Linked DNA regions of Homo sapiens: region 2 is linked to region 1. The links come from fine-mapping of genetic effects on gene expression. A gene starts in region 1. The other region holds a variant in brackets. All regions are shown on one strand. Distances are from middle to middle.

The links. PIP is the estimated chance that this variant, and not a neighbour inherited with it, causes the effect.
Region 2: its variant is the best candidate, but not a certain one, in a credible set for the expression of PRECSIT in testis (GTEx, PIP 0.72).

Annotation. Positions count from the first base shown.
Region 1 is chr13:110,867,097-110,872,470 of GRCh38, forward strand. It overlaps PRECSIT (p53 regulated carcinoma associated Stat3 activating long intergenic non-protein coding transcript), which reads right to left and starts at 3,212. Exons shown (of 1, transcript NR_027701.1): 1 at 1-3,212. RefSeq lists enhancers at 2,269-2,955, 2,313-3,512.
Region 2 is chr13:110,821,834-110,827,207 of GRCh38, forward strand. It overlaps LOC105370363 (a long non-coding RNA gene), which reads left to right and starts at 274. Exons shown (of 2, transcript XR_007063874.1): 1 at 274-714; 2 at 3,030-5,374. The variant G/C (reference allele first, on the strand shown) is at 3,308.

The DNA.
Region 1 (5,374 bases):
AATGTCCCCTGGAAGTGGATGCTGGATGAAGGTTTGAATGTCGTCACTGGGGGTAGATGTTAACCTACTGTTCTCGAGGTGGCACCACTTTCCAGCCCACCCTGACCTGAGACTGTCCACTTCCCACACCTCCCCATGCCACAGGCTGCCAACTCCTAAGCTCACATCTTAATATATTCAGTTTTCAATAAATTCACATGTGCAACCAGAAACCAAGAGGAGATTCCCCATATTCCCACTTTTCAGAGGCATCTTACGGTCATTCCTCCTCTTTACCACCAGCCTGGTTTGCTTTTGTCTCTACTTCTTGATCTGTCGACCTCAGATATTACCTCTCAGCCTTGATGATCAAAGGTGAGGATCTGGCTCACTCGTGCTGGTGCTGCCGGAGGGAGGCAGCCATGGCATTGGGTTTTGCTTTTCCAGGAGGCACTTGTGGCAGCGAGTGCCCATGTGTTTCCCCAGCATCCCTCTCTGCTTCATGGCAGAAGATCCCAGTGTCTGTCCCTCCCTAGTTCCTGGAGCCCTGGAAGCCACAGGCCGGGAGGACTGGAGGTGCATGGTGGGGTGTGGCAGAGATGCAGGGCCGTGGATCTGATGACACTGCAGCTTTCAGACTTGTTTTACCAGAGAGAAACAACTTCCATTTCATTCCCTGTGGTTTGAGGATTTTCTGTGATGTGCACCCTAATTTAACCCCAAATAAAGTAATGTCATTACAACTGTGTCTGTTGTTTTGTCTTCCGCACTCACTCCATGAGGGCACGGTACCCTGACTCTCCTCCGTGCCTCCTCTCGGCCACCACCAGGTGCTCTTGCCACTGCCACACTCCCCTCACCTGGTACCGGGTGACAGGCCACCCTTTTCTACAGAGACAACTGAGTTCTGTGCTTTGTCCATAGTTTAGTCCCAAAAAAACCCTAAGCTACACGTGCATTACTACAACTGCATGAACACTGGTCTCCTACCAAAGTCTGCAGAGGTGGAGCCCACAGCCTCCCCAGACAGGTGGGAAGCTTTGCCTCCTTCCCTGCATGCCCCACCCAGCTCATGAGGAGCTAGTTGGAGATTCTGGGTACCGCTGTGCACACCCAATGCACCGTTTACACACTCAAGTATTTGGACCGCAAATGGTACTTGTGTCTTTACTCAAACTGTTGCTATTATGGATGTTGCGGGGCAGTGGTGGAGGTGTTTGGCCAAAGAGTGACCATCATCTCAGTCTGACAGAGACTGTCCTAGTGTTAGCATTAAAAGTCCCATGTCCATAAAAACCCCTCAGTAGGCTGGGCACGGTGGCTCATGCCTGTAATCCCAGCACTTTGGGAGCTGAGGCAAGTGGATCACTTGAGGTCAGGAGTTCGAGACCAGCCTGGCCAACATGGTGAAACCCCATCTCTACTAAATATTGAAAAATTAGCCAGCATGGTGGTGGGTTCCTGTAATCCCTGCCACTCAGGGAGGCTGAGACAGGAGAATTGCTTGAACCTGGAAAGTGGAGGTTGTAGTGAGCTAAAATCACGCCATTGCACTCTAGCCTGGGTAACAGAGAGAGACGCTCTGTCTCAAAACAAAGAAACAAAAACAAACAAACCTTCAGTCCCAAGCAAATTGGGACAGTTGGTGACCCTGGTGGAGCACATGCTGTAAGATTATTTCCTAAACTATGAGTGGATAAGAATTGTTCTGAGTCTGTCCCTGTTCAGAGTCCTCATTCTTTTTCCTTTTCCTGTCAAAGCTAGTTTGATTCCTAGCAGGATTCTAGGTTAAACAACGGTTTCTTCTCAGACCTCTGGAATAGGTCCCATTGGCAGGCCACCCACATTGTCCTGAAAGTGTTCCTGACTGTCCACACGCATTAGTCCACAGGACGGAGCCACACAGCCAGGACGGAGCCGCACATCTGTTCTCCTCCACCTTTGGTCAATTCTATGCCCACCTGGTTCTTGGAAATGAACCAGGATATGTAACAAAATCCATTTTTTTCTCCTTAGGATGAAATGATGTTGAAGGAAAGAATGTTATTTGAGGACCTGCTGTCTGTCCTTTTGTTTAAAGTTGCCATTTCCAAGAACCTAATGACGACCTTAAGTGAGGAATTAGTGTGCTCATAAAAAAGTTTTAGACGTTTTACGCTTACAGGAAAATGGTGAGGATAATGCAGAGAGTTCTCATGCAACAGAAATTTCTACTATTATTCATGTCTTACATGAGATGGGCACACCCTGTCCCCGTGTCCGAGGACTGGACAAGCCCACTCTAGCGGTGCACAGCTGGGGCGTGCCCCTCGGCAGTGGGGTGACCTGGCCCTCTCGCCCAGTGATGTCCTCATGCTTTGTGTCACGTGAACCACAAAATCTGAGTGAAAACGAAAGTCCATGAATGTCCAGGGCAGCTACCAGACGTGCGCAAGTAAGTCTCATGAAACAAAAGCTTCCCTGGATGGGGACAAAACACACTTCCTTCCGCTTGTCACCATCCCTGGCTCCTTCAACTCGGTCCGTCTCCATGACGTGTTCCTCTGCTTCTCTTCCTCCGAATAAAAAGGAAACATGCCTCGTAAGGACAGCAGTGCCGGGCTGGAGCCGCCTCTCCCCATCAGCACTAATGGCGTGGTACCTCTCTGCCCGCCCTTCTCTCTCCTCACCTGTGTTTTCCTTTCTTCCCGAACCTCCTCTTGGCTGAGGCCTCATGGGAAAAATAGGGGCACTCGCCCCATGGGCCCCAGGGAAATGCCAGTACCCCGGGCCGGAGAGTAGCCGAGCCCCAGACTGAGTCGTTGCTCCATGGGCCACAAAAGCTGGTTCCCGCACAGCAGCCGCCCTGGGCCCCGGCAGACACGACAGAATGGGTTTCCTTACACAAACCGCGCTTGGCAGATGTTGCCTGAAAGACAGGAACTCCGAAATTCCAACAGAACGGCCAGCGGGTGGCTCTCTGCTCTGGCAGGCTGCAGGCTCTCAGGGACGCCATGTCTCCGGAAGGTCAGCGTCAAATGCTGGTGAGAACTCACTCACTCCTCACCTCCGTGACAGGCACGTGTGTTGGCTCCACCAGGGTGCAGAAGCCACACGAGCTGCTTTAACAGAAGACATTCATGTAAAGCACAGCTCTCGGGCCGTGGGGCTGTTAACCAGGAGGGTGCACAGTGCATGCACCGCCCAGGTTCCGGTCAGTTTTGCTCCCACAGTCATCACCCTGGAGGGCGTTTCATGTTGTTGCTGTGAGAATTTGCCGTTGCTTGAGTGAGTCATGCTGACGTGGCCCCTACTCCAGGGTTTCCAGTCTTTCTGCTCCTAGACTGACTCAGCGCTGGTCATTAGGTGCTGTCCATCAAGGGGAACTTGCCCTGGGCATGGAAAATGCTGACCAGCTCCCTGTTTTGGAAAATGACCTCATCCCCAGGCTGCCCACAGGAGGCGGAGCATGCCAATGCCGTTCCTTACTGGTGTGTATATTACTGTTTTTGTCCTTTTCATGCAGCCTGCGGAGTGTACCTCTATAGCTGTCATTTCACTCCTGTGTTTTCTCGGCCTTGGGCGAGGATCCCATGCTGCTGGTAATGAAAGCTGCCTGTTCCCTCGGTTGTTTTCACAGTCCCTCCTTTCTCTTCCAGAGAGAGGTTTTGTTTTGTTTTGTTTTGTTTGAGACAGGATCTCACTCTGTCACCTAGGCTGGAGTGCAGTGGCATGATCTTGGCTCCCTGCAACCCTGCCTCCCAGGCTCCCATCCTCCCTGCAACCCATCGTCCCACCTGTGAAGGGAAAATAAATCTTGGGCCCCCAAACTCAAGCCAAAGGGAAAAGTCAAGCTGGGAACTGGGTCATGCAAACCTGCCTCCCCTTTTGGTCCCTAAATAAGATGCTGCAAGATGAAAAACTGCACACCTCCCCTATATTTTGTCCACAAGGAAATTCCTAGTGAGCTCCGCAATCTTTACTGTAAGGTGTTTCTGTTAAGATTTCACCACAGCAATGCAAATCGATAGCTCATCTTTACAGGTGCAGTCAACCCCTGCCCGCCAGACACAAATGCAAACCTGATTGTTCCCCTGCCCCCTTTGTCTAAGTCATCTTGTGTAAAAATAATGCAGATTCAATGAGCCAAACGCATGACTATTTTTCTCTACCCGCCTCTTAGATGAAAATTGTGTACTTGTCATTATCTCACCCTTTCCCCTTTAAATTTGGAGCCCTCAAAATCATCTTCGGAGAAAGGTACAGACTGTCTCCCGAGTGTTCGTCCTTAACTTTGGCGAGTAAACCTCCTAAAATGATTGAGACTTGTCTTGTCATTTTTCTCAATTGATACACCTCAGTCTCCCAAGTAGCTGGGACTACAGGCATGCGCCACCAAGCCCAGCTAATTTTTGTATTTTTTGTAGAGACAGGGTCTCACGTTGTTGCCCAGGCTGGTCTTGAACCCCTGAGCTCAAACAACCTGCCCGCCCCGGCCTCCCAAAGTGCTGGGATTACAGGCGTGAGCCACTACGCCTAGCCAAGAGAATTTTAAAACCATTGAGGAAATAGTGCCATTGTTGTGAATCAGAGACTTGATGTGCTATTTCATGTAGTGGTTCCTGTCGTTTTGCTTGCAAAATTGGCTTCAATTATCTTGAATTATATGAACTGTCAGAAAAGCCCTGCGGCAGATGATGGTAACGAAAAGACATCCTTTAGCAGACAGGGAATAGGACTGATTCACTGATGCATCTGAGTTGCAATTTTTTTAGCTGCTTCTAAAAATCTTGTAATTAAATTCACTGGTGAGAGCACAGTAGCCTTCATAAATGGGAAAACAGAAACATCGAAGTTGTTCTCAAACCATCCTGGAATCTTAAAGTTCAGGGGGCACCTGGCAGAGGGGAGCCACAGAAAGACGGCAGGGAAGGGAGGGTTAAGGCGAGGCCGGGATAAGCCAAGCAGGGCTGTTCTGGTTTATCTTTCTTACTTTGTTCTTAAGAAAACTTGCTGAATGTAGTTGGCTTCAGATCTTCCTGTTTTAAAAAAAACGCAGTAAGATGAAAAACCTGATGTGTCCTCTGCCCTTCCCCGTCCCTCCCGCCTCTCCCTGCGGGGGGTGAGCACTCCTCAGAGTGCCTGGTGGAGAGGCCCCTGCCCTCCCCTGCACGGAGCTGGGGTGGCCTTAGGCCAACAACCATCAAAGAACTCAGGCCCTTAGTTCAGCGACCCGGGGGGAACTGGGTCCAGTCACCAGCCATGTGCGTGAGCTTGGATGCAGAGGCTCCAGGGGAGCTTTCAGATGAGACTGCAGCCCTGGCTGACACTGCACTGTGATCTCCTGAGAACGTGAGCCCAAGGAAGGGGCCCCTCCCCGGGTGGGACGTCCTGCCTCACAGCTCAACGCTCTGCT
Region 2 (5,374 bases), 45 kb before region 1:
ACACCAATCAGCACCCTGTGTTTAGCTCAAGGTTTGTGAATGCACCAATCGACACTCTATCTAGCTGCTCTGGTGAGGCCTTGGAGAACCTGTGTGTGGAAACTCTGTATCTAACTAATCTGATGGGGACGTGGAGAACCTTTGCATCTAGCTCAGGGATTGTAAACGCACCAATCAGTGCCCTGACAAAAACAGGCCACTGGGCTCTGCCAATCAGCAGGATGTGGGTGGGGCCAGATAAGAGAATAAAAGCAGGCTGCCCGAGCCAGCATTGGCAACCCACTCGGGTCTCCTTCAACGCTATGGAAGCTTTGCTCTTTTGCTCTTTGCAATAAATCTTGCTACTGTTCACTCTTTGGGTCCATGCTGCTTTTATGAGCTGTAACACTCACAGGGAAAATCTGCAGCTTCACTCCCGAACCGAGCGAGACCACGAGCCCACCGGGAGGAAAGAACAACTCCAGACATGCTGCCTTAAGAGCTGTAACACTCACCGCGAAGGTCTGCCGTTTCACTCCTGAGCCAGTGAGACCACGAACCCACCAGAAGAAAGAAACTCTGAACACATCTGAACATCAGAAGGAACAGACTCCAGACGCGCCACCTTAAGAGCTGTAACACTCACCGCGAGGGTCCGCGGCTTCATTCTTGAAGTCAGTGAGACCAAGAACCCACCAATTCCGGACACAGAATTTCATGGAGCCTGGAGCCCAGGTAAGTAGTGAAAGCCGTCTAGAGATGGAGGAGCAAAGCGAATACACAGGTGGAGGCTGAACGCTGAGAAAAAGAGTGCTGGGGTCTTTGCAGTTTGGGTTGTAGCCACTTCCTGAGGCTCGGGATCCTGAGACAGCCCACATATGAAACCTCTCTGTGTCCTTTCCTCACTCCAGCCTGAGCTTGCGTCTGTCTTTTTCAACCCAAGTATGTGAATGAACACCGCAGGTGGTGCTCGTCTGTCTGATGTTATAAGAACTAGGCCTGTGTAAGAAGTCAGGAAGTTCAAACGTCTTTCTTTTTTTTTTTTTTTTTTTGGGACGGAGCCTCGCTCTGTCGCCCAGGTTGGAGTGCAGTGGCGCAATCTCAGCTCACTGCAACCTCTGCCTCGCGGGTTCACGCCATTCTCCTGCCTCAGCCTCCCGAGTAGCTGGGACGACAGGCGCCCGCCACCACGCCCGGCTAATTTTTTGTATTTTTAGTAGAGACGGGGTTTCACCGTGTTGCCAGGATGGTCTCGATCTCCTGACCTCGTGATCTGCCTGCCTCAGCCTCCCAAAGTGCTGGGATTACAGGCATGAGCCACCGCGCCTGGCCTCTTTAATTCTTAATAGTTTTTTTTTCTTTTTCTTTCTTTCTTTATTTTTTTTTTTGTGACAGTCTCCCTCTGTCACCTAGGCTGGAGTGCAGTGGCACAATCTCAGCTCACTGCAACCTCTGCCTCCCGGGTTCAAAGACTCTCCTGCCTCAGCCTCCCAAGTAGCTGGGATTACAGGCGCACCACCACTATGTCATGCTAATTTTTGTATTTTTAGTAGAGATGGGATTTCACTCTCTTGGCCAGGCTGGTCTCGAACTCCTGACCTCAAGTGATTCGCCCACCTCAGCCTCCCAGAGTGCTGGGATTAAAGATGTGAGCCACCACACCCGGCTTAACTCTTAATATTGGATATCAGGTTAATTTTATAACGAATGATCATTTCTTATAATTTTATTTCTTGGTTTGTTGCCCAGGCTGGAGTGCAGTGGTATGATTTTAGTGCATTGCAGCCTTGAACTCCTGGCCTCAAGTGATCCTCCTGCCTCAGCCTCCTGAGTAGCTGAGACTAGAGGCATGCTCTACTGTGCCTGGCTCATTTCTCGTAATTTGAAAAGTTAAACATCCAAGCTACAGTGAACTGAATCCAGTATTAATAGAGTGGTGTCACTTGGGGTGTTTGTATTTTATTTTGACACAAGAGAACTGACATTAAAATAGCCGAAGGAGTATGGTTTCATTCTGAAGAAGGATTGGTCAGCAGGGAGGCTTAGAAATTGGAGATTCAGGCTGGGTGTGGTAGCTCACACCTGTAATCCCAGCACTTTCGGAGGCCAAGGTGGGTGGATCACCTGAGGTCAGAAGTTTGAGACCAGCCTGGCCAACATGGCGAAACCCGATCTCTACTAAAAATAGAAAAAGTAGCCAGGCATGGTGGTGGGTGCCTGTAATCCCAGCTACTCGGGAGGCTGAGGCAGGAGAATCGCTTGAACTTAGGAGGTGGAGGTTGCCGTGAGCCGAGATTGCGCTAATTTTTGTATTTTTAGTAGAGATGAGGTTTCGCCATGTTGGCCAGGCTGGTCCAATCTCTAAGCTTCCCCTGCTGACCAATCCTTCGCACTAAGGCTTTGTGGAATCTAATGGGGGTGGCTTCTGGCCACAGGTGACTTGTCGCTTGTTCCATGCAGGCAGCAACTTCTTGGAAATACATGCTCTGTATTCGAATTGAGCAAACGTTAGCCTGGTAACAGATAACCCCCCAATCCCAGCAGTTTAACCCTTTCCTATTTGCTCCAAGAATACTCACTGGTGGTGCTTGTGGCTGCAGCGTTTACCCCGAGATAACTTTGCCACACAATATCTTGTTTTTATTATTTTCACAGTGCTCGAGTATATCGACTTTGGAAACAAAACACATCATTCTATTTATAGCACTCTGTTTTTAGTAGAGGTACTTCCATTTACAAAATACAGTCATTCTCAATCGCTGAAAATGTCAAATCCTAGAAAACGTAGCATTCCTCCGCGTGATGTTAACATCATTCTCAAACAGTTTTTGGCTGAAGATTCATTTGATGAATCTGATTTTTCAAAAATAGACAATTCTGATGATTCAGACAATTCTGATGCTAGTTCTGTTTAGAAATAACTCCAAGAACAGCTTTTATATTTTATTTTCACATTGAAAATCTGATTTGCTTCAGCCTCAAAGAGCGTGTTTATGTAAAATTAAATGAGCGCTGGGAGTGAGCTGCACTTTTTGTTTTTTCCTAAACAGGAAAAGGGTGAATCCAATGCAGGCTGATTTCTGGCTTACATCACAGTCCAGTCTGATTTTCTGCAGATTACTTTCTACAAGACGATTTGGGACCTCAGTTTACCACCTCCCAGCGGACCGACGGGTGCGGTGAGTGGAGATGATTTTGTGAGAGTTTTTAGGACAATCCTGGAAGTGGGTTTGTCACTTCTGGCTGCACTCCATTGGCCTGAAAGGAATCACACGGCCCCACCCCAATGCGGGAGGCTGGGAGTGTTCAGCGCCTGCAGAGAAGGTCA[G/C]GTGGGCTGGAAGCCCTGCGCCAGGCATGGCCACGCCCTGGTGAAGGTGCTCGACAAATGTGAACATCTCCACCTAAGCCCCCCTTGGCACCACCACTGAGTCAGTCTGTGTTTTGGATGTTTAATTTTGGGGTTCAATTTGCTGATGGTGAATTTGACAATGATGTTATTGATTAATTCATTTAAAGGGAGGAGAATCACAAATATTGTGGCTAGTACAGAACAACCTCTTCCACCAAGCCAGTTGTGACTGTTGCGGATGGAGATGGACACCTAGTGAATGATTTAATCCACCAACAATTGTGGCACACAGGCATCGTCTTCCCCACGCCAGGACTCAGAGGCTGAGCCCAGGGTGCTGAGAGGCTGAGCCCACAGCTCCGGGGTGAGGAATGGAGCTCCCCGAGCGCGGCTTATCTTTCAAGGGAGCTCACACTCTTTTACAACAACCCTCGAGGTGAGGGCTCCTTCAGACTCTCCCAACTCCACCCATGGCCACAGCCTCCGGGGCAGGGCTCCTGTTCCTACCCACCCCTCAAGCTCCTTCTCATCCACATGCCCAGGCTAACGTTAGCCACACTGGCAGCGGGGGAACTGACCCTGAGCAGCAGGCGCTGGCCCCTGCTCCAAGCCCTGCTTTCCGAGTGAACTCTTGTACCAGCTGGAATTGTCTCCGGGTGCTTCCTCCGTCAGACCACGGTCAAGTGCAGGTCCAGTGTTTTGGGTCAGATGTCAGTGGGCAGGCTCAGCATTCATCCAAAGAAATAGCAGCTTCGTAATTGGTTACTTGTAGGGGTAATTAGCTATCTGCATAAATTAACTGATTCCTCCTCATAGTATGTCCCCTATAGACAGTGAGGGTTCAATTTGCTGTTGGTGAATTTGCTAATGTGACTTATTGATTAATCTTTTTAAAGTGGGGTGGTTCCCAACACTTGAGGCCACCTGAGCCCATGGAGAGGGTGGAAACTGACCCACAAAGCTGCCAGCTGCTGGGGAACACGGGTCAGCCCAGTGAGGCAACTCTCTGGCCACATTGCCCACCGCCTGCCCTTCACTCCCACCAAGCATGGCTCCCTCAGAGTCCCATGGCTGCTCTGCTGCCCAAGGAAACTGTTCCTCTGGGCGTTCTCAAAGGCCTGAATGGATGAGTGCCATGTCCAGTGCTATGAGTCTCCTGATGGTAGATGGACACTGTGTCCCATGTCCAATGGTGGGGACTGTGCCATGCCCTGTGTCCAGTGATGCTGGATGGGCCATGCCCAGTGTCCAGTGATTATGGACAGGCACCGTGCCAAGTGTGCTATGATTATCGATGGGTGCCATGTCCAATGTCTAATGATGATGGACAGGTATGTTCAGGGTCAATTGATGGTGGATGGGCACCATGCCCAGTGTCTAATGATGATTCAATTGATGGTGGATGGACGCCATGTCCAGTGTCTAATGATGATGGACAGGTATGTTCAGGGTCAATTGATAGTGGATGGGCGCCATGTCCAGTGTCCAATAATGGTGTACCGTGCTCAATGTCTGATGAGAGTGTACAAGTGCCTTGCCCAGTGTCCAGTGATGGTGGACAGGCACCATGCCCATTGTTCAGTAATTATGGTCATTGGACATGCCAAGTGTCCAATGATGGTGGACCATGCCCAGTGTCTGATGAGGGTGTATGGGTGCCATGCCCAATAATGGTGGACAGGCATCATAGCCATTGTTCAGTGATTATGAACAGGTGCTATGCCAAGTGTCCAGTGATGGTGGATGGTGCAATGCCCAGGGTCCAATGATGGTGGATGGGCACCATGCTCAGTGTCCATTGGTAATGGATGGGTACAATGCCCATTGTCTAATGAGGGTGTATGGGCACCATGCCCAGTGTCCAGCTCATTGTCCAGTGATAATGGATGGGCCCCATGCCCAGTGTCCAGTGATTATGGACAGGCACCATGCCCAGTGTCCAGTGATTATGGACAGGCACCATGCCCAGTGTTCAGTGATGGTAGATGGGCCTCATGCCCTGTGTCCAATGATTATGGACGGGCCCTATGCCCAGTGTCCAATGAT